2 separate regions of the Homo sapiens genome follow, and region 1 is linked to region 2. The links come from fine-mapping of genetic effects on plasma protein levels. Region 2 holds a variant in brackets. A gene starts in the other region. All regions are shown on their reverse strands.

Region 1 (8,630 bases), not on the chromosome of region 2:
ACCTCCAGGCTCACTTCCCGACAGGACTTCCCACCAGCCCAGCCTTTCAGTGCAGGCTCCAGCCCTCCACCCCCACCCGAGGTGAGTGGCAGCTACCGAGGTTGGAGGATAGAGGGATGCAGCAGGATGAGCCAGCTGGAAGGGAGAGCTACATCTCCCCTGTCCGTAGTGACCCGGGGAGGGGGGTGCGGTGGGGGTGCTGGAGGCAGGGCAGCTGTGGAATGTAGGGCTGAGAGCATGCATTCCTGCTTCTCCACCCAGACTCCTGGTGTGGCCTGGGGCAAACTCCCCCCACCCACCGCCCCCCGTGGCTGGGCCTCAGATTCCCCAGCCTTAGAACGAGAGGGCTGGAGTCAGACATCTGTGGACTCTGGTGATGCCATCAGAGAGGACCCAGAGGGCAGAGGAGGACTACCCAGGGCTGATGGGCTGACCTAATGACATTGATGCTCTGGCTGGGAGGGCTCAGTCCCGGAGGGGGTGTCAAGTTGATAGGAGAACTCAGCAGCAGGGAGAGATGGAGGAAGGAGATGGAAGAAGAGTGGGCCCCTGTTGAGGCTGCAGCCTTTGCCACAGGGTAGCTGCTTAGGGGCTCACCAGGAGCCAGTGTGTGGCTGAGATGTATGGGACCTGATAGAGCTGGGTCCCAGGCACCAGGGAGGATCACCCAGAGAGTCACTGAACTCCACACGAGTGAGTCCAGGGGTGTACCCTGCTCTGCTATTGCTTTACCATGTGTCCTTAGACCATTCACGGACTCTGTGCCTCCGTTTCTCCACTGGTATAGCTGAAGCGTCCTTCAGCTGGGGAAATCCATTCTCCAACTAGGCTCCTGGAGTGAGCTGAGCCTGGGAGTTGAAATGATAGCATAGGAGCCTGGCATATCTGAGTCAGCAGCCCAGCTGGGGACAAGGTGCAGAGGTGACGGCAGTAGCAGCAGGGTCCAGGGCAGCTGAGGGGTCCTGGGAAGTCCTGGAGCTGAGAGGCATCAGGTCAGGAGCTGCATCCTTGGTGCCTTGGAAGCCATCTGGCGGGCTGTGGCTTGAAGGAGCTGACTCACAGGGAGGGGGCAGCTGGAGCCAGCAGAGGTATCCTAAGGTTTCCAGGAAGGGCAGCCATCCAGGGCTGAGCTGCAGGAGACAATGTTGACAGCGATGTCAGGGAACTTGAGTTACTGGGCAGCTGGACAGCTGCTCTCCCTGGTCCCCACCACCCAGGGCCACCACAGCCCAAGGCCCTGCCTACCTGCCAATACCTTAAGTTGCAGTCCCCAGGTCCCACTACATGGGACCACTGACGTCATCAACACATCAGAAGGAGACAGAAGCCCAGAGAAGGTCACAACCCAAGGTCACACTGGGACTTAGTGCAGCCCAGGATCTAGAACCCAGGCCTCCTGACTCCCTGTCCAGCGCTCACACACTCTAGAAGCAGCTGGTTGCAGCTTGAAACCTTGGGAACCATGGGGAAGAACACAACGGGTCTCTGGCTGCATACAGATAGGCACCGTGACATTTTTCCAGAGGTGAAGTTCAGACCCCTACACCTGCTTAGGTTGTCTAGAAAGTGTGGTCTGAAGGTGCTACCCTTCTTCCAAACACATATGGGGCTTTCTGGGAGGGAGCATAGCAATTCCAAGCGGACTCTCCCACCCTACTCTGCCCAAAAAAGGTTTATAGGAGTAGGGGGAGTCTGGACCCATGATGCCAGGACCCAGGAGACCAGGAAAGCAAGTAGTTAGTAGAGATCTGAGAAGTGTTCTTCGAAAAATCAAGCCAGCAAAAAAATAAAAAATAAAAGTAAAACATCAAATCAGGTTTTAGAATATGCATCCCTGGCCAGATGTGGGATGGGGCACCCGAAGTGGGCCCCAGCAGCTCCTGCCTGTCCCTGTCCCTGTCCCTGCCACCTCCTCCCTGCGTCGGGTGGGTCAGGTTTCAGGACCTCAGCGCTCAGATTTTGCAGCATAAATTTGCATCCAGGACAGACCAGAGCAGAGGCTGAGGTAGGAGTGGAGAGAGAAAGGGAGCAGGGCCTAGGAGGTCCTGAGGTGCAGGCTGGCCGCTGAAGGTTCAGGATCTTCCCCCACGCGGCAGGACATCCGCCAAGGTTCCCAGATCTGAGACGGCGCACCTCCTGCGTGTCCTTGACGGCAGGTGGACTTTCCAGACCCAGCTGGTGACGCCAGTGCCCCCTAAATCCCAGAGGTGGCCCCTTCCCTCGTGCCCTGGCCGCAGCCCCTGGGATCCCGCGGACCCCTGGCCTGGCGGTGCAGGAGTGGTAGCAGGTCCGCGCGCCTTCTTGCCGGCGGCCGGCGCTGCTCAGCGGCGCGGCTGGACTGAGCCGCTCCCGCTGCGCTCAGAGTCCGGGCCCCTGGCGCCATGCCAGGCCCGGCGGGCGTGCGCCCGGCGCGCAGCACTGCAGCGCTGGTCATATGAGCAGAAATGATGAGAAAAGCACTTTTTAATCTTTTCGCACTTGCTCTGCCCGCTCAAACAGTTGCAGGATGTCGATGACAGACTTGCTGAACGCTGAGGACATCAAGAAGGCGGTGGGAGCCTTTAGCGGTGAGCAAGCGCGCTCCCCTCCCCATCCCTCTCCCCTCGTCCACCGCCCGCGCCCCTGCACTCCGCCGGCCCCGCAGCCGGCGGATCCTCCCCAGCGCGCTTCTGCCCACACTTCCCGCTGGGCGCCGGCGAGGTCGGGGCGGGGGCGTCCTTGGCAGTTCCCAAACTCTGTCCGGGCGAGGCTTGGCGCGGGGAGCGGGCGGGGAAGAGGGCGCCCCGCCTAAGTTACAGAAACTTGAGGGTGCTGAAGGCCCGGTGGCTGGGAGGACTCAGGGTCCGGGACCAAGGGCGAAGACCAGGGTCGGAGGAGAGACCTCCAGGGTCCTTGTACGAGCTCTCTGGACGTCCTCTTTAAGGCACTTAGAGGGGACTGCAGGGGGCATCCTCCTCTCCAAGAGACCCCTTTCCTGGACCCTCATTCTGGACAGGACTTTTCCCGCCAGGCGGTAGCCTTTGTTGGCCCCCTGACTGTCCTAGTTCCTTTACTGAGATTCAGCAACGGACCTGCGGGCGAGGTGACCTTCTGGAGCCGGCGCACAGCTCTGCCTAAGCCCGCACGGGGCATCCTCAGTGCCTCAAACCTCCAGCCTCCTTAGGCGGGCAGGGGAGGGGAACTGGCAGTCTCACCTCTCCCAGCTGCCCGGGACTTCAGCGCTAAGCTGCCCGCCTTCCTCCTCCCCTGTCCTCCAGATGGGGAAATCAGGGAACTGTCTTGGAGAGGACAAGACATTTGCCCAAGGTCACCTAGCTGGGCAGAAGGGGTATTAGAACTGGGTTGCCCAGCCTAGTGTCGGAGGTGGACAGGGCAACTTTCCTTGTCTCTAGCCCTGTGCTGAGGGGAAGAGAACATGACTTCAACAGCCATTCCCTACACACACACACACACACACACACACACAAAATACATGATCTAACATTGTACCCTTCCCCAGGTGTTCTAAAACAGGACCCCAAGATACAGAAAATTGCAGGTAGAAAAGGACCCCCATTTCCTTTCTGCTTTGCACCCCCTCCCCTGGGCACAAGAACCTCTCTGGGAAGCCACCCTCCCAGGGTCCTGGGATAACCCTCTCCCTTCACCTCAAGCCCATGTGGGAAGAAACTTAACTGGGTGTTTCTCGGGAGCCTCCTAACACCCCCTTCCCACTGCCTCCGAAGTGGATTTCTGCGCAGAGCCAGGACTTCCGGGTTTGCCCCTCCTCCTCCCACTGTATGACCTTGAGGGAAACCTGTCCTTTCTATGTCAATTTTCTGGCAACAAAGTCTGTGGCCAAGAAAGAAGGTCAACCCTCCTCCCCCTAACCCCAGGACCATGTTCATGCCCCCTTCAATTCCCCAGCCCACTCCCAACCAGCTGGCACTCAAAAGTCTTCCTGGGCACAAGGTTCTCAGAAGAACAAAAGCCTTTGGTTCTTAGGTGCTGCTCCCATCATCAGCAATGGGTGCAGTGGAGGTGGGGCGTGGGGGCGGGCTTGAGAGCCAGGGAGGTCTGGGTTTGAGCACACCTCTTCCACTCCCAGCCTTGTGACCTTGGACAGGTTATCCTCCCTTGCCCGGGCTCCCTCAGCCCTCCAATGGAGGTGGGTACCTCTCATTCCCCATGACTGGCATGTGGGAATCCATCAACAAATGCCTTGATGCCCCCCATTCTCCCAGGCTTCCCTACCAGCCTTTCTGGTCCTTGTTTGACCCTGCTCTTCCCCCCACAGCTACCGACTCCTTCGACCACAAAAAGTTCTTCCAAATGGTCGGCCTGAAGAAAAAGAGTGCGGATGATGTGAAGAAGGTGTTTCACATGCTGGACAAGGACAAAAGTGGCTTCATCGAGGAGGATGAGCTGGGGTAAGCGGAGGCCTGCAGGGGCTGCCCAGCCCACGGCTGCACGAGAGGGAGTGGGGGCTGGGACTCTAGCTTCCAAGTGTCCATCAGACCTGCCTTTCACTCTGCCTGCTTCACAGAAAGTAACCGTGCGTGAAGGCAGGGCTCCGACCCAGGGCACCAGGGGAGAAGGCTTCCTGGTGCTATTGCTTCGGAAGAGTAAAACCCTCAGCTGAAAGTGCAACTAACTAGGTTAAATGATAGCCACTTAATATTGCTAATGGAATGTTGCTACTTAATAATTTAATGCAAATGAAGAGGCAGTTTTCTTGCTGCCTAACACCATAGGCAGGGCAGAAAGCATTCACTTGAGTATTTCATTGATTTTCATTTGTCTAAAAGACACTTTCCACCTTCCTGCAGCCCCCAGCCCTCTGGTACTAGTGTGGCTGGTGCAATTTCTAGGCAAGCCAGGGATGCAGAACCACCTCTGAGAGTCCAGGGGTCCTTGGAGAAAAGCAGAGAAGGAGAAGGCTGTGGCTAGGAAAATGCATGCCTCCATCTGCAAAAGCATCTCCCACCATAATTCCCTCAGCCACCCGGCCATGTCTACTGACTCAGGTTGCCTTATGTCACTTTCTGGCCAAGAAAGCCTTGAGTTTTGTCAAAAAGAGAAGCGGGGGGTGGGTGTAGGGAGAGGCCTTTCAAGTAGGGACTTCCCCACCCATCCTGTCTCTCCCCTAAACCATCTCACAAGGGTACCTTCTGTCTAGAATCTTCACGTTCTACCCACTTACATCCAACATGCATGCACACTTATGCACACACACACACACACACACACACACACACACACACTCACAGAGGCTGACTTCCCCCTGTCCTCCAGGTATCACCTTCACCAGGAAGCCTCCCCTCTCCTCCCCTCACCGCAGGTGGGCAGATACAGCTTCTGAGTGCCCTCCTCCACGGCCCATCACACTGTGTGGTCTCTCTCGGAGCCCGTGACCTCCTTATTTTTTCCAGTGCCTTCCGAAGATCACCACTGTGACCCCACTTTCCAGCATACGCCAGACACAGAAATGACACTTAGTGAATACTTGTTGGATAAATTAACGAATGTAGGTGCCCTCCCTGAAGTGAGGACAACCCTTCACTGAGGACAGCCTGTCCTTTCCTAAATACTCACCCACGAAAGCACAGCCACCGAGCAGGCTACCTGGCCCAGAGCATCCGTGTGCGTGACTGCTGCTCGCTGCCTGTCCCAGCCATCCCTTTCCCCATACAGAAACCAGACCACCCTCCATCCAGCGTCCTGCAAGGCGACCTCGGCCTGACTCCCTCACCGGCTTTCTCCCTTTTCTCCTCCAGATTCATCCTAAAAGGCTTCTCCCCAGATGCCAGAGACCTGTCTGCTAAAGAAACCAAGATGCTGATGGCTGCTGGAGACAAAGATGGGGACGGCAAAATTGGGGTTGACGGTGGGTAGCCGTGACCTGGGGTCTGGGCATATTGTGGATCTTGGGGTGTTGGATGCGAAAAGTTTGAAGCTATGTCTGTCACAAGGAAGGGATGATATGGGGGTCCCTCACTCCCCCAGATTAGAAGACAAAAAGCAGTCCATTAGGTCTGAGAGCTCTGCCACATACTCCAGACAAAGGAAAACTGGTGTATTTTCCTAATTTGAAAACCTAAAAGGAATAGATTCTGTTTTTCCTGCTGGGTAGGGGATCCAGGAGGATTTGGGATTTTTTTTTCCTGAACTCTGCCTGCATTTTTGCATGGATACTGGCCCAACCTCTGCCCAAACTGGCTGTGTGACCTTGGGCAGTGTCTCTCGATCGCTGGGCCTCTGTCTCCCATCTCTAATCCAACGAAATGAGGCCGACTAATCCCCAAGGATCCTCTGCCTCTCACATCCTCAGATTCCAGGGATGGAAATTCCTATCTCCTGTCCTCCTCAGCATCTTGTCCTGGTGTCCTGTAACCCCAAGTCTCAAAACCTGTTTGGGTTTTACTCAAATATACTATTCTAGCCTTGCAGCAGAGCCAGGAAAAACAGTAAACCAGAAATCAGTGGGGAATTCAGACAGGGAATACCTGGCCCTGCCTTGCTTTGCAGGCTTCAATGTCAGCACAGGTGAGAGACCAGTGGCCCACCGTCCACTCCTTTCTCCATTTGGCTCTGTGTGGCATTCATGGAGCACACCCACATTGCTATCTCTCTTAGCTTATGATTTTCTCCGGAATTATCTCCATTTTGCAGGTGGGCAAATGGACTTTGAAGGTGCTTAGCCTAGTTGAAAGAGCTAGGACATAGCGGTGGAGTGGGGATTTAGAACCAGGCCTGAATGAGTGTTTGCAACATACTAAGCTGCCATTTGTTCCCATAATAGGCTTTTCTGCTGGTCTCAGAGAAAACTGTGTGTAGGTGTTTGGCCTCTGGGCCCCAGGCTATCTGGGTTCAAATCCCAGCCCTACCACTTTCGAGCTGTGTGACCTTGCGTAATTTGATAACTACTCTGAGCCTCTGTTTTCTCATCTCTGAACTGAATAGAATGATAATTCTTACAGGGTGATTACAAGGGTTAGATGTGTTAATATGTAAAGTGCCTAGAACAGTGTCTGGCACAGAGTAAATGTTATATATGTATTTGTTAGCTAATTTTTTTAAAACTAGGTCCCTTCGCAAGGGTACCTTCTGTCTAGAATCTTCACGTTCTACCCACTTACATCCAACATATAAGTGGATGTAAAACTTAAAACTAGGGATTGGGTTGCATTCATCCTTCTAGCCCCAGTATCTAGCCAATACCCCACACAGAGCAGGTGCTTCATAAACATCCGCTGCCTGAGTGTAAAGCCCAGACCCCCATGCTCTGCTCCTTCTCTGCCCCTTGCCAGCTGTGACCTTGAACACGTCACCTCTGCACACCTACGTTCCCTTGCCCGGCAAATGGGGTGCATCAGCTTCTCCTAAGACCTATTTGGGCTTGTTGTGAAAATTAAGATTCTGTGAACCCAAAATTGCTTTGGGAAAGGTACAAGGATTATGAAAGTAGGTGTATGCCTATGAGTTAGAGGGTTTTTTTTGTTGTTGTTGTTGTTGATTTCTTTTCTGTTTGTTTGTTTCCTGCCAGTAACGAGAATGGAGAATCCCTATCCAGGTCAAATGCAGGGGGTCCCCTGGCCATCTGATGCCAGCTGCCCTTCTTGTGGCTGGGAAGGAGGGAGGTGGTTTTAAAGGAGTGGAGCAGAGGGTATTGGAAAGGCATCATTGGCTTGGCCGCTCCTGGGGCTTCTGGTGCTTGGCAGATCCTCCCTCACACCCCCATCCCCACCAATCTGCTTATCAGACAGCTCCACCCCAAGGCCTGGCTCCCATCTGAACCCTGACCCTGGCCTCCAGACCTGCCTTCCATTTTTATTTGCAGCCAATATGCCATACCTCAGAAGCCCTGGGCTGGGTCTTCATGGCTGACTGCTCACAGAAAACCTACCTGATGAAGAGAAACCAGCCAAACCTGGCCCAGTTCCCTGCCTCCCTCCCTCCCTCCCTGCCACACTCAGATCTTAAGGCATCAACTAAACTCTTCTAACAGATCCAGCAGATGTTGACTGAGTAGCAACTCTGTGCCCGGCAATGGAAGAGGTAAAAATAATTCAGGCCCATTTCCTGACTGGGTGCCCCTGAGCAGCTACTCCTTAGCCCTGAGCCCCAGCTTCCTCATCTGTAAACTAGGCATTATAACATGGAAATGTGGCCTGTAGTGCCCAGCACATAACAAATGCTCAATAAATGGCCACTGCAATGCCTTATTTATTTATTTATTTATTTATTTATTTATTTAGAGACAGTCTCTCTCTGTCACCCAGGCTGGAGTGCAGTGGTGTAATCTCAGCTCTCTGCAACCTCTGCCTCCTGGGTTTAAGCAATTCCCCCCTCCCCCAGCCTCCTGAGTAGCTGGGATTACAGGCACGCACCACCATCCCCAGCTAATTTTTGTATTTTTAGTAGAGACGAGGTTTCACCATGTTGGCCAGGCTGGTCTCGAACTCCTGACCTCAAGTCATCCGCCCACCTCAGCCTCCCAAAGTGCTGGGGTTACAGGCATGAGCCACTGCACCCGGCCATGCAATGTCATTTTTATTGTCTGCAAATTGCTTGCAGCTCTACACATATACACAAACAAGCGATAGTGCCAGCCAGAGGCAGAGGCGCAGGCATCAGGCATTTTGTACGGA
Region 2 (8,769 bases):
GTTTTTGATCCCCAGCCTACTCCAGAATGAGTATTTGCCTTTCTTTGAAGCCAGAGAATGATGTGCTGCAGCACCGGAAACATCATTTACTTTCCAAAATGGGCCGCATTGTAACCTGAGTGTGTGCCATTGTTGCTGATGTGAGAAGGAGCGCCTTGACATTTTTGGCTGTGATTTCAAGTGTCCTCATGCAAGAGTACTAGCTCTCCTACACCAGAGCATATAGACTTTCAGAAAAGGATGGAGAATAAAAAGAAGGAGGCCCGTATGAAGACAGCCAACTTAGAAAACAGCAGGGCCCAGTTCGAGTGAGAGCAAGGCCAATATTGTGTGTGTGTGTGTGTGTGTGTGTGTGTGTGTGTTTTATGGCCAAACTGTATCTAGGGATGCTAAATAAAAGATACCAATTTTATAATATATGTTGTAAACGAAGCCCTCAAACTGTTTAAAATGAGTATTTCGGTAGCCATATGCTCTGCATGGTCACATATATGTATATGTGATATGGGTGTGTGTGCGCACACACGTGCCGGTATGTGCATATATACCTCTGCATGTTCAGAGGTGAAGAGACATTCATACACTCTGTGCTATGCAAAGCTATATGAGTCATATGGGAATTTATTTAAAATATTGATATTCCCAGTTAAAACAACACTGGGCAATATTGTCATTGCATACACGAGCTGTTTTGAAGCTGGAGAGGGGAAACAGAGACCCTTTCTCCTCCTGAAGAGCTGCCTGGAATACCAGAATGGGCAACTCGCTGCAATAAGCCGAAATGCACAGAAATTACACTTGAACTAATGCCTAAAACCTGACGGAGACATACTTCATAGTTAATCTGGTTACTCGGGGTTTATTTCACAGTCAGAAGTTCTTATGATGGAAGGGGCTCCTGCTGGCTTCTCCCAGACACATGACTGAATTAATGAATGAATGAATTCAACTTACCAGAGCAGATTTAAACTGCTTACTGAAACAAAATCTGGTCATTTTTCTTCCTTCTGTTTTCTTTTAAAAGATAAATACAAGCCTCATATGGATGCTCTAAGAGTCATTAATCCTGGATAACCGACTTGTTTTATCTTTTGATTAAAAAAAGGCAGGCTGACCGACAGCAAGCCTACAACAGCAGACTCATTAACAAGCCGGGTTCAGATGTGGCCTGGCGAATAAACACCCAGTGTTCCTTTAACCAGGCAGCACCCCGACAGGAAGGCCTCGTGCTCCCGGGCTTAAAATGCAAGGAACAGGTAAACCAGCCTTCTCTTGCTGAAGCAGCAGAAAGCTCTCACGTTTTTTTCAGAATGAGCGCTTTCTGCGATACTACTTGGTTGTCAAATTTTAATGGGTGCTTGTTAACAGGGACTTTGAAATATTGTGATGTATTTGACCATCAGCAGCTTTCTGGCCTGCTGTTGGGGCTGAGCTTGGTGTATTTTAATAGGCACCTTAACTACCCGGGGATGAGGTCTGTAATACTCTCAGGCACTGGATGGGAAGGCCCAGCCAGTGGCGGGTGGGGGGCGGGGTGTGGAATGCGGGATCCCAGAGATGGAGAGAGGACTGCTGGGTTCCCTTGGCCACTGAAAGCTCTGAGAGTGTCTGGGGATGCAGGGTTTCCTTAACGTGCCTGGCTAAACCTGGGAGAGGCTAGGGGCTAGCTCTGCTGGTCCTCACAGCTGCCTGTGAGGATTTAAAACACACCTCTTGTAAAGGCGGGTGAGAGTTGGGGGTGGCTCTTTCTTGCCCTTCCTCCCCTCTTCTTCCTCTCCTTCCTCCCCTTTTCCTCTTCATCCTCCCCACTCTGTTCTCCCCCACTTCTCCTTCCTTTCTTTTTCTTCTCCCCTCCTCCCTTCCTGGTCCTCCTTCTTCCACTCTCCCTCTCTCTCCTCCCCCTCTCCCTTTCTTCCCTAATGCTCAGTCCAAGATGTAAGAGTATCTAAATATCTCATGTTGAGTGCTGCTAGTAAAATGCCACTTCTCTGAATGACATTCTCAGTCCGACTCCAGCTTGCTTGCCTGCTCCTCCGTCAGCCTTTCCCCAACCCACCACCACCACACACTTCCACCCCAAACACACACGAAGGCCTAGCTTGCCTGTCCGATTGTCAAGGAAAGACAGAAGATTGCTTCTTGGCACCTTAATCTGTGTCTGAGTAACAGAATTGGGACTTTCAGGGCTTCAGGGAAGGAGGGACTAACTACAAGGGGAGGGGGCAGCCCAGCCACGGAGAGGGCAGCCAACAGCTGGGCCAGGGCCTGATGCCCGCCCAACAGCCCCAGCTCCAACCACAGCACCCGACTCCGGGCCATTCCATGTGGGATCGTGACCTGGTAAGCAAGAGTAACTGTTTGCAAAGATCTCTACATCAAGTTCTTGGAGGGAGGCTGACTTTGCCTGGACCTGGCAGAGGGGATGTGTGTGTGTGTGAGTGCATGTGTGTGCACGCCAAGCTCTCTTGTGTCCCTGGGGAGAGGGAATGAATGCGTTGGTGGGGGAGGCAGGCGACGATCTGCCTAGAGCCGCCGGGCACCACCGCGCGTTCCGAAGAGGCAAGAGTGTTTTGCCAGTGGAAAGCTTATTTTGCCCAGCAGGACCAAAAATCCAATTAAAGAAAGAATGAGGGAAATGTGAAGTCTGGACTGAGCGCTGGCACCTCCCTGGCCGACTTCCTTGGCAGGGATCTCTGTCGAGGGGAAGGCTCAATGATGGCTCTGGGGATGGCCGAACAGAGAGGCTCCCACGCGCCATAGCCAAACACAGGGGCAGCTGCCAGTGACTGGGCCCTGCCTGTCCCTGCCGCCTGCTGCCATGGCCTCCTGCAAGGACCCGCTGGTGGTCCTTGGTGGGGTGGAGAGCTAGGCCGCCTGGCAGCAGGGAGAGCACCACCCCAGTCCCAGCTCTCGGGCCATTTGAACCACCCACCCGCCCGCGCCTATTGACATCGGTGAGAATTGCACAGGCAGATTAAAGACAGCATATGGCCCCCCAACTGGAAGCCAGCGGAGCTGAACCAACACTGGCAAATTGTGTTCAAACCGCATTGAGAATCCTGGCAGCTGCACCTGGCATGGGGAGCAGCCGGCGACCTGCATACAAAGGGAGTTTTATACACAGGGGGCTGCAGCAGCAGCGGTAGCAGCACCGCCACCCCCCACACCCCCAGCCTGCTCTCCCCTCCCCCTCCATCCAGATTTGGTCATTGACCCTGGGAAGTGGGGAGCTATTTGTCCAGGTTTCTGAACCTGGAGGAAGGAGCCCATGAAGGCAAGCTCCTATTTGGAGCTTTAAAGCCAGGACAGATTTATCAGGGTCCTTTACTGCCCCCTCACCCCAGCCCTGTGTCCATGTACCTCTCTCCCCAGTTTACCAATGGCCATATTTCCCTAGCCAGGGGGAGGCCGGGAGCCCACCCAGAACCTCAGAGGGCCTGCAGCCTTCTCAGCTTGACTGGTAAAGGTGGCAGTTCATCTCTTCCATCCTCTGGGGCAGAACCCAAGCGAGGGAATCTCTAAGTGTTCCTCAGGGCCAGGGTGACATGCAGACTTCTGGGTCACCCCTTGTTTTCCTCCCTCCAGCCCTGTCTAAGAAAAAATAAAAAGGCAGAGACATTTTTGTTACCTCATGAACGAAAGAGAAAACATTATGTAACTGGTACATAGCAATAAATAACCAAGGGTGATGGAGTTGGGGAGTGGGAAGGGATGAGACCAATTAACTTGCAATAAACCAGCTGAACCAGGTAGGGGCAGTGTTCCGAGAGAGTCAACACGCAAAACCTGCCCCGGGGTGAGGGTGGGGGGGTCTGGCACCTGCTTAATCAGGTGTGTGCTGCGGGTCTGCTTGGGACACTGGAGGATGCTGGGTGGTAAAATCTGGCAAACTCAAGGGGATGTAAAATCAGAGGGGGACGATTTGGGGGTTCTGCTTCATGGAATAGGGTTGAAAGAATCAGTCATTGGTTTCCTAAGGATGCTTCATCCTGGAGGACTGCTGCTTTTAGACCACAAGAAGTCTTTAAAATGCTCTCTTGTTTCTATTTCCCCCGCAGATGGCATTTGAGGGGGAGAGGATAAGCCAAGGGAAGAGGAAAATCAAAATGCTTTCAGCAGCACGGCTTCCGCATGCTGGAGAGGTGGTGTATGGGGTTGCGGCTTGGCCTGTTTTCTGAAACCTGCAAGGTAGCACCCTGAAGGTAGCTTGTAACCCTCCACTCTCACACCAAGGTAATACCTCCTTCCTGTCTGGCCACCTGTCACAGCCAGTGGAAGTAGGGTTTGGAGGGATGGTTGGGACATCCTTACACAATGTTAGGTGGAGACTTAGTGATGGCTTCGGGGGAAGGCAGAGGGAGTCTCTCTTGCGTCAGGGGGGTGGAAGCACCGCTGCCATGATCAAGCCCTTTGGATGAAAGGAGGGCTGTGAGATTTGCTGCCCAGATGTGGGTTTGCAAATGACCTTGTTGGTCTGTTACCCTGGCCTAGCTCATAGAAGCTTTCTTCTCCTGTGGCTTGGGAGAGAGCCACCGTAAAAGACAAGCTGTGGCTAGTAAGCATCTTCTATGTGCTCTGGACTGTCTCATGCAAGAGCTAGGGCATAGGATCCTCATGATGGCCCTTCAAGAGGGGTTAATCTTGTC[G/T]TTGTTGCACTTCTATGAGGAAACAGACCATGTGAGGCTAAGTAACTTGCTCAAGGTCACACAGGGGTGATTGATGGGGTCACCCAGACTGTCTGACTCTTGTGTGGGTATGGCTGCCCTCCTTGTCAGCCGGCGGGGTATAGAGGCTGGCCCTCCATTCTTGATTTGCTCAGTAATGGGGGCAGGACAACTCCACCTCCTTCTTCCCAAAGGAAAGTTGAGCTCATTTTGGAAAGAAAGCAAACAGCCGTTCTCCTCTGGGGCTCTATCCGGGGACAGGGCAGAAAGGAAATCCAGTACACTGCGGAAGGAGTCATTTTTTGGCCTGGTTCTCACCACCCATCTCTAGTTCAAACCCTGCTTTTAGCATATCTGTGTTGATGGGGCAGGGCCTGGGAATCACGATTTGCCTTTAAGAAGTGGATGCACTTGGAGAGGCTGGCGCTTCCACCAACCAGGAAGAGCTGGGGGCACCCTGCTTGCTCTCCGAAACTTCACAGAAAGCCCCAAGAGCTGGGGATGTGGGTTCTGTTCTGGATCTCCAAGAGACGACGTCATGCTAGAATGTTCCCTTCATTTTTGAAAACTGCACTCCTGCCTGGGGCCATCTCGTGTCTTCAATGGCTAAAGTAGATGCTGATTTGGGCAACCAGCTTTCTTTTCTGTTTTGAAAATTAATGCACCTGTGTAGTCACCCAGGCTTGATAGTTGCAACAATAACTCATGGACAAGTTGTGTGACTGGTGGTAGTGACTCCATTTGCTCACACCTCCTTGGATTCAGTCCCTGGTGTAGTTCCCTCCCACACTGACTGTGGGTTTGGCCAGGTGACTTGCTTTGGCCAATGGGACACCATCAACCATGATTAGCAGAGGTTTGAAAAGTGCTTGTGCATTGAGATTTGCCCTCTCACGCTGTTCTTGGGACCCTTACAACTGCCAACATGTGAATGTGCCTGGGTTAGGCAGGTGGAGGTATGTGGCCCAGTCACCACTGCCACCCAGCTGACAACCAGCACCAACCACCAGACACACTGCATGAGGCCATCCTAGACCATTCGGTTCCCAGGTGACCTGCCAGCTGGTCACAGGTGAGTCCAGCAGAAGAACTGCCCAACCCAGCCCAGCCCAAATTGCAGATCTGCAGAATCATGGGCTGATAAATGATTGCTCTTTTAAGCCACTAAGTTTTGGGGTGTTTTTTTATTGTGATAAAATATGCATAACATAGCATTTACCATTTTAACCATTTTTAAACGTACAGTTGAGTGGCATTCAGTACATTCACATTGTGCTACCATCACCACCAGCCATCTGCAGAAGTTTTTCATCATTTGCCGGGGTTCTTTATATATCTAAGCTCACTCACTGATTCACAAGCTGCGGGGGCTGCCTGCACCTCCCTGACTGTCTTGCAGCTGATGAGCTTGTCTCTGAGTGGAGGCTCAGGCTCAGGCACCGAGCTCTGGAGTGAGGCCCAGTTCCAAACTGAAAGAGAACAATGTCCACGGGTCTCGGCTGTAGCCACAGTTTAACACAACCCTGGCTTCCCTCAGGCATGCTCACAAACGATCCTGTTCCTGTGGGTGCAGGGAAGACAGACAAGCAGGGTCTCCACAAGGGAGGCTGCAGACCACAGGCAGACCCGGTGACAGGGGACATGCTGGGACTTGCTGTTTAAAGAGCCACCACCAGGAACTTGGCACCTGACCTTGTGCTCAGGGGTGAGCTGTGACAGCTGCCACACCAGCCCTGCTGTCCTTGCCACTTCTAGCTGTGTGACTTGGGGTGAGTCACTTAAGCTTTCTGAGTCTGTTTTTTTCCCCCATCTGCTAACTGAATGTAATCGTAGTGCCATGTTTTAGGGCAAGGATTAGAGGAGCCAGTGTTGGACACACTAACAGTTGCTTCATTAATTAATATATGGGGCTGGCCAGGATCCCTATTCCCCCTGGCCCCAGACCCCTACCATCTTTCCTCATCCTTACTGGGAAGGGGCCTTTAGAAAGAAAAGAGACAAGGTCGGGCACGGTGGCTCATGCCTGTAATCCCAGCACTTTGGGAGATCACCTGAGGTCAGCAGTTGGAGACCAACCTGGCCAACATGGTGAAACCCTGTCTCTACTAAAAATACAAAAATTAGCTGGTCATGGTGGCACTCGCCTGTAATCCCAGCTACTGGGGAGGCTGAGGCAGGAGAATTGCTTGAACCCAGGAGGTGGAGGTTGCAGTGAGCCAAGATTGTGCCACTGCATTCCAGCCTAGGGGACAGAGCAAGACTCTGTAAAAAAAAAAAAAAAAAAAAAAGAAAAGAAAAGAGAAAGACTTTGTTAGCATCAGAAATTATGCTTTGAGAGGGATCTTCAGTATTAGCTGGAGAAACACTCATTTGTCTTTTAGATACTCACTTCTTGATATTCATGTTAGGACCCTGGGCTAGGCTGACAGTGTATATAAATAAATACGGGGGCTCTGGGAGAGGAGGGAGAGAGCAAGGGCATTTGGGGATGCTGTGGCAGACTGTTGTGTTTATTTTCTTCATCTTCTTATGTAATAGAACCCCTGATTTTTAGTTGGGCATACACTCATCTGGAATAAAGACAATGTTTCCCAGCTTCTCTTATTGCTAGGTATGGCTACATGACTAAATACTAGCCAATTTTATTTCATGTCCTGAGGCATCCTCCAGGAACTTCCTTAAGAGAGAGCTGTGTCACACACTTTGCCCTTTTCCTTCATCCCTCCCAATATCCTACCATCTGGAATGCAGATGTAATGGCTGAAGCTCCAGACACCATTTTGGATAATGAGGACAAGGTCACTCCTAGCTGTGGCAGAACAATGAGCTGGATGGAACCAGAATTTCTGTCCCAGTTACTTTCGGTGTGTAACAAACTACTGCAGAGTTGGTGGCTTAAAACAACCATTTTAGGGCTGGGCGTGATAGCTCACGCCTGTAATCCCAGCACTTTGGGAAGCTAAGGTGGGCAGATCACTTAAGGCCAGTTTGAGACCAGCTTGGTTAACATGGTGAAACCCCATCTGTACCAAAAATACAAAAATTAGCCAGGCATGGTGGCGCACACCTGTAGTCTCAGCTACTCGGGAGGCTGAGGCACAAGAATCACTTCAACATGGGAGGCGGAGGTTGCAGTGAGCCGAGATCATGCTACTGCAATCCAGCCTGGGGGAACAGAGTGAGCCTCTGTCTCAAAAATCCCAAACAACCATTTTATTGTGCTCATAGATTCTGTGGGAAAGGACTCTGGGCAGGGCTTGGCTGGGCAATGCTTTTGTTCCTAGTGGTGTTGACTGGCGTCACTCAGTGGTACTCAGCTGACTGAATGGCTGGTCTGGAAGATCCAACACAGCTTCACTTACACATCTGGAGCCTGGAATAAGGATGGCTCAAAGATTAGGACTGTCAACCAGGGCACCTATACATGGCCTCTCCATGTGGCTTGATGTCATCACAGCATAGTAACCTCAGGGTAGTTGGATCTCTTACATGGTGGCTCTGAGCCCCAAGCAAGAATATTCCAGTGAACAAGGTGGAGAACATATGACCTTTTATGATCCACCCAAAAATCTTGCAGTATCACTCTACCAAATTCTATTGGCCGAAACAGTCACAAGCTGGCTTAGATTCAACCTAGGAGGGGAATCAGACGCCCCTTCTCCACTGGTGGGCTATCAAGCTCATGATACAGAAGAGCGTGAGGGACAGGAGATACTGTTGTAGCCAGTTCTGGAAAATTCTACCTGCCATAGTCCCTGAGGGTTCATGGAGCACAGCCACAGCTGCCACACCAGCCCCAGACCACCTAGCTTGGGTATTTGGGTGAGAAATACACTTTTGACTCATTTAAGCCACTTTCATTTCTGGTCTTTGTTACTCAGAGTTAAACCCTGTGCTAACTCACAGAGATCTGCTTTGTATAGACTTTAAAGGACTTGATGAGAAAGGTGAAGGACTATTTCACCAGCCTCTGGACTTAGTGTGAGTTAGTGTTTGCCTAAAATAACTCTCCTATTCTAATGATAATGGACAGTACTAATAAGTCCCCACACCCACGGCCCTGCCGAGCCCTTCAAGACCTTGAGGCCAAAATTAAGATGACACC

Which allele goes with the higher level. Positions count from the first base shown, and alleles are read on the strand shown. Strength reflects both the effect of a copy and how common the allele is.
With allele G in place of T in region 2, the plasma level of the protein whose gene starts at base 2,477 in region 1 is lower (weak association).

The links. A credible set is the group of variants that fine-mapping cannot tell apart. PIP is the posterior inclusion probability: the model's chance that the variant is causal. Protein levels are from antibody-based Olink assays in UK Biobank. Linkage for the fine-mapping came from a reference panel and not from the study's own genotypes, which makes the PIPs less certain.
Region 1: PVALB starts here. The variant in region 2 is the best candidate, but not a certain one, in a credible set for the plasma level of the PVALB protein (UK Biobank, PIP 0.55).

The regions. Positions count from the first base shown.
Region 1 is chr22:36,810,882-36,819,511 of GRCh38, reverse strand. It overlaps PVALB (parvalbumin), which reads left to right and starts at 2,477. Exons shown (of 4, transcript NM_001315532.2): 1 at 2,477-2,567; 2 at 4,277-4,409; 3 at 5,757-5,866. The coding sequence starts at 2,507.
Region 2 is chrX:39,834,570-39,843,338 of GRCh38, reverse strand. MIR1587 (microRNA 1587) reads right to left here and starts at 5,778; the gene lies at 5,726-5,778. RefSeq lists a silencer at 3,341-3,529. The variant G/T (reference allele first, on the strand shown) is at 4,647.